Linked DNA regions of Homo sapiens: region 2 is linked to region 1. Evidence: fine-mapped expression QTL. Tissue or cell type: whole blood. Region 1 holds a variant in brackets; the other region holds the start of a gene. All regions are shown on one strand. Distances are between the middles of the regions.

Region 1 (2,676 bases):
TCTCTGTAAGGAGAGACATTTTAACAGGATCAGCCGGAGTTCGGGGAAAACTGCAAAGTCTAAGCATTCTTGGTGTCATAACTTTGTCAGCTGTGTTAAAGTTGACAAGATGCTTACCCAGCACCTCTACACATGTACCAAAGGGAAGTGGTTAAATGTGTAAGCCATAACAGCCATCAGGGATTCTCTAGCAAGCACGTGCTGAGCAGCCAAAGCCACGCTGCCAAGTGATGCCCAGATGTCGCTACTGCTTCCCTCTTATCTCCACATTGGGAGCCACATGGTCCTGCTGTCTGGGATTGGGTCTAAGGATAGGATATGGCTTGGTTCTGTCGGCCGCCCATTCCCAGCATCTGTACTGCAGGCCCCAGGCTGGCTTGGAGGCAGCTCAGAGGCAGCTCCTGCCTTCAGGAAGCCATTTCTATTGCAGAGCTGTTCTCCAAAGACAGAAACACAAGTCCAACTTACCTCACAAAGGCAGCAGCAGGACTGGGGGCAGGAAGGAAGTTTAATAAAGGGGCTGGGTGGCTAGAAAGAGGCTGTTCTCAGCCTCGGGAGAGATTAAAGGAGTGGGCCTGAAACACTGCGGGACTGCTTTCCTGGCTGGTTGCTATTGATCAGGGAGACGAGGAGAGACAGGAGCCGGGATGAAGGGACAGGCAGCCAGAAGCATGTGGCAGGGGCGTCTGTGGGCAGGCTGGATGATGGGATGGGCTTGGGCAACCAGGAACTGGGCAGACAGATCCCGCCAGTGCCCAAGAAGGTGGGCCCTTTGTGACCCAAAAGCTCCTTGGAGGTTTGTCCTACCCAAAGCATCCAAAAGCTTCTGGGTGGCCATGAAGGAAAGCAGGGCTGACATCCATCCACACCTCAGCCCCTTTCAATCACACTTCAGAAGCAGTGAGGAGAATCTCCTGTGATACCTTGAAGGTAGGATTAGCCCCCAGGCATCACATGGCCAGAGGACACCTCATTTTCACAGTTGTTCTCCTCCCATCTGCAGATCCCACTTTCATTTCTTTTTTTTTAGACAGAGTTTCGCTCTTGTTGCCCAGGCTGGAGTGCAATGGCACGATCTCGGCTCACTGCAACCTCCACTTCCTAAGTTCAAGCAATTCTCTTGCCTCAGCCTCCTGAGTAGCTGGGATTACGGACATGCACCACCACACCTGGCTAATTTTGTATTTTTAGTAGAGATGGGGTTTCTCCATGTTGGTCAGGCTGGTCTCGAACTCCCGACCTCAGGTGATCTGCCTGCCTTGGCCTCCCAAAATGCTGGGATTACAGGTGTGAGCCACCGCGCCCAGCCTA[C/T]AGATCCCACTTTCACCAAACATCAGCTGAATGAAAACTCCTAGATGTGCCGGCTCCACTCACGCCTCAGGGCTGTTCTCCAGCCACCACTGCTTCCTGTGGAACTGGTGACCTGCCACACCTAGTAAAGTGGGACCCCCACCCAGGCAACAGCCTCAGCACCCACAGAGAGGGCAGGAGCTTCCCCTTTGCTAAAACACCACCTGAGCTAATGGGAGTGAGGGAAGGGGACCAATCACTTCAGGATCCTAACCCGGTTAACTGTGGCTCCCAACCTGGGTTGTGCATCAGAACCATCAACAGAGATGCTATTTTTAATGCAGATCCCTGGGCCAGCTCCAGACCCAATGAACCAGAATTTCTGGAGACGGAACATGGAAGTCTACATTTGCAAAAGCCCTGCAGGCAATTCTGATGCTTCCTCCTGGCGAAGAGCAGCACAAATTCATCCAAACTGTTCAATTCACAGAGTCTGAGTCCCAGGGAAGGGTGAGGAAAGTGATTTGTCCAACGCTACATAGGCAGTCACTGGCACGCAAAGATGCCACCCAACTCTCCTGCTTCCCTGGGCAGCTTTGACAATACTAATGGTAAAGATAATGGTAATCATGATGACAGCCACTGCTATTTATTGGTACTACTTTAAGCCCTTCACAGTGTATTAACTAATTGGATTTTCACAACTACCCTATGAGGTAGGTACTATAATTCCTATTTTTCCAGAAGAAATTGAGGCACAGAAAGGTGAATTCACTTGCCCCAGGTCACACAGCCAGAAAATGGTGAACCAGGCCCCCTGGTGCCAAAGCCTGTGCTTCTGTTTAACTGCTTCAAATCCCTGGGATCCTCCCTCCAGGGTTTTGCTTCCTCCCCATTTCAGTGAGTTGAGCTGTAGACTCTGGTATGTTTTGGGGGGATGGGCCCTGAGGAGCTGCCTGGCTTTGCTCCTTGGAGGAGAAGGAAGAGCTGCAGCCCCGACCCTCAGAGCCTGGGAGAGCCCAGGGAGCGTGCCTCTCCACTGACTGTGGGACCCACTTTTGTACTTACATCTGGATCTGGGCGAGTTTCATGTCCTGGGAATTCAAGGCCCTTCGGATGAAGCCACACTGCCAGGGGCGATGTGGGCCCTGCTGTCAGCTCTGGCTAAGAATGAGAAGCGGCTTGCCCTGGTCCATCTGGGTGCTCAAGTTCTTTCTAAGCAGCCCCACGGGGACATCCTCTTAGGCCGGCGATCGTCATGCATTAGCCTCCTCTCGGGTGTTTGGGATTTTATCCTTCTTGGTTTGGGGGATGTAACTAACTAATTTGGCTTTACTTTTATTTACTTATTTATTTTTTGAGACAGCATCTAGCTCTGTCACCCAG
Region 2 (2,676 bases), 97 kb before region 1:
CAAAGTGTTGGGATTACAGGCGTGAGCTACCTCGCAGACCAAAGAATGTTAGCTGGTATTATTGCTCACAAGTCTGAGAAAAACAGGCTCAGGGGTTGCTGGAGCAGCTCGCCCAAGCCACCAGCTACAAAGTGTCAGAGCTGGGAGGAGTCCAGGGCCTCTGAGATCCCACGAGCTTCCCTCCACTCCAGACGGCCGCTCCTGCTCAGTGAAGACACCGTTGGCCAAGGCGCCCTCCTCCCCAGCCGCCAGTCTCTCCTGGTACCTGTTAGCTTCTCAGCAATGGGTTTGAACTCCTCAGGGCTGATGTACATATCCCCGTCAGTGTCCAAGGAGGAAAAGAGAAAAAGGCCATCTGTCCCCAGGGTCTTCAGCGCCAGTTCCTGCTTGGGAGGAGAGACTGGGCTGGGCACCATTTGGCGGCCTGGTCTCCTGGTCCCCAACAGGCAGTTGCTTCCGCATGGAGCCCCTTCTCCCACCATCTTCCTGAGCTCTCCCAGTGCCTCCCGGTCCATCTGTGCAAATGTTGCCTCTGAACTGCCCCAGAGCCTCCAGTCCCTCCTGGTCCCTGCTCATCCACTGTCTGGTCCGACTGCCCCCTCCCAGTTTGTCCCCACTCCGCCTTCCGCCTGGCCCTGGCTGCTTGGCCCTGTTCCTCCTGCACCTTCTGTCCTCTCCTGTGTCCCCTCCTCACTGTCCCAGGGCTCCCCAGTAACCCTTTAAGACTCTGCGGGAACCAGCTTCACTGTGTCCAGGTCACCCCTCTGGATAGAGACCCCTCCAGTCTGTCCCAGCCCCACACTGGCCTCCGTTCGCCTTCCCCCCATCAGCCCGGCCCCAGGCACCCCCCACCCGCCTCCCGTGTCCCCTCCTTCCCGTGCTCCCTCCCGTCCAGTCCCCCTCCGCCCTCCGCCTCCCCCGACTCGTCCATGCCCATGTCCCCCCTGCTGCCGAGGCTGGGTCCTTCAGTCCCCGCTCCCGCGCTCCCGCCCCAGCCAGCTCGGGCCCGGACCTGCCGCGCGGCCGCCTGGGCCTCGGCGTGGCGGGCGCAGACCCGGACGGCGGCGGCAGCGGCGGCGGCCAGCAGGGCTCCGAGCAGCGCCAGGGAACGGGCGCGGCGGCGCGGTGGCGCGGGAGGCTGCGCGGCGGGGCCGGGGCTGGGCGGCCCGCGTTGGCCCGGCCGGGCCCGGCCCATGGCTGCGGCTGGCGGCGGCTGCCGGCGGCCCGGGAAGCGAAAGAGCGGGGCGGGGCCGGGGGCGGGGCGGCCGGGGCGGGGAGGGGCGGGGCGGCCGCAGGGGCTGGGCGGGGGGTCGCTGGTTCCCGGCTTCGCAGCCCGGCCAGAGCCCGGGGCGGGGTCAGCTACACCGGAACGCCAAGAGGGGCTGATCGCGTCTATGCGGTCGGGTCCGTAGTCCCGGCCACCCCAGCCTCCCCAGGCCGCTTCCTGCCTCTCCGCGCCCCTTCCCGTGCTTCCGTTCCCAAAGCTAAGCCAGGCCTCTGCGGCCCACTTGCCTGGCCCAGCCCAGAGAGCGATTCCAGACTGGGGACTGGGACAAAGAAGGGGCTGGGGAGAAGCCACACACCCTGTGCTTTCCTGGAGAAGGGGCGTCGGGGGCCTCTGAGGCCTCGTGTCCTCCTCTGCTGGCAGCCGGGCACGAGGCCAGAGACTGCTGAGGGGCATCCGTCCATCCTTATCCCACCAGTTTTCTAAAAGTTCCTCTGTCATCTAGAGCAAGACAAATTAAAAAGAAAGCCCAGCCCCTGTTCCCCTCATGTGCAGTTGGGGGGCCACCTCCGCAGATGCATGGGTTATGGGGATTGGCCTTGTTCCAGGCACAGCAGGTGCAGCTCTGAACCTGCACTTCCCTGGGCCCAAATTTCCTCATCTCCACCAAGGAGTTAAAAGAGCCCCCCAACCCCCACCCTCCGGGCTCTGGTCTGGTGAGGGGAAGGCGAGGCTCCAGCCCCTCAGCAGCTGGAGCTACCAGAGGCCCTGGCTTTTCTGGAGAACAGCATGCGGCATGCTTGGAGGAGGGCCTTGGAAATAGGGGTGGGTGGTGTTGAGGACATATTTTCATGCCTGTCAATCCCCAGGACCTTGGTTCCTTGGGGCTCTCTTCCATTCTTTCAAAGCCCCCAGTTACCATGGGGTGGCTCTAGATGTCTCTACCTGCATTTTCTCAGGCGAGGGTGGCAGCTGCAGAAGCCTCTAGACAAGAATTCTGAGCCCAGAGGTGAGCAGTGCCTGCCTTTGCAGAGCCCCACCAACCCCCCCAGCGCAGGGGCACCTGTCAGGCCTGAGGGATCCAAAGGATGCTGAGCTCTGCCCATGTGCTGGACTTCAGGTGGGGTGATTTACACATTCTCTCACTCTGTTCTCAAGCCACCTTGTGAGGTAGAGACTGCTTCCCTGGTTTTCAAATGAAGAAGCCTGACCTCTGGCACCCAGGTCTATGGGTCCAAATCTCCTGCCATCCTGCCTCCCAGGCTTCCCACGGGATGACCCGGTCGACTGAGTTGGGGGTGGGGTCCTGCCTCCACTGCCCATCCTGTTCTTCTTTGGTGGCCAGCCATGGCAGCACCAGGTGAGGCCTTCCCAGAGCCCACACAGGGCGTGGCACATCGTGGGCACTCCTCAGTGTCTGTCAGATGAATGACTCCCAGGGACCTTCCAGA

The links. PIP is the estimated chance that this variant, and not a neighbour inherited with it, causes the effect.
Region 2: it holds the start of SELENON, and the variant in region 1 is fine-mapped to the expression of SELENON in whole blood (INTERVAL, PIP 0.96).

Annotation. Positions count from the first base shown.
Region 1 is chr1:25,702,033-25,704,708 of GRCh38, reverse strand. All of the region lies in intron 2 of MAN1C1 (mannosidase alpha class 1C member 1), which reads right to left. Among named protein-coding and RNA genes, the nearest start is that of MAN1C1, 87 kb to the right of the region's middle. RefSeq lists enhancers at 189-689, 690-1,190. The variant C/T (reference allele first, on the strand shown) is at 1,312.
Region 2 is chr1:25,798,750-25,801,425 of GRCh38, reverse strand. It overlaps SELENON (selenoprotein N), which reads right to left and starts at 1,233. Exons shown (of 12, transcript NM_206926.2): 1 at 1,013-1,233; 2 at 266-383. The coding sequence starts at 1,195. RefSeq lists a silencer at 1,369-1,508 and an enhancer at 1,318-2,039.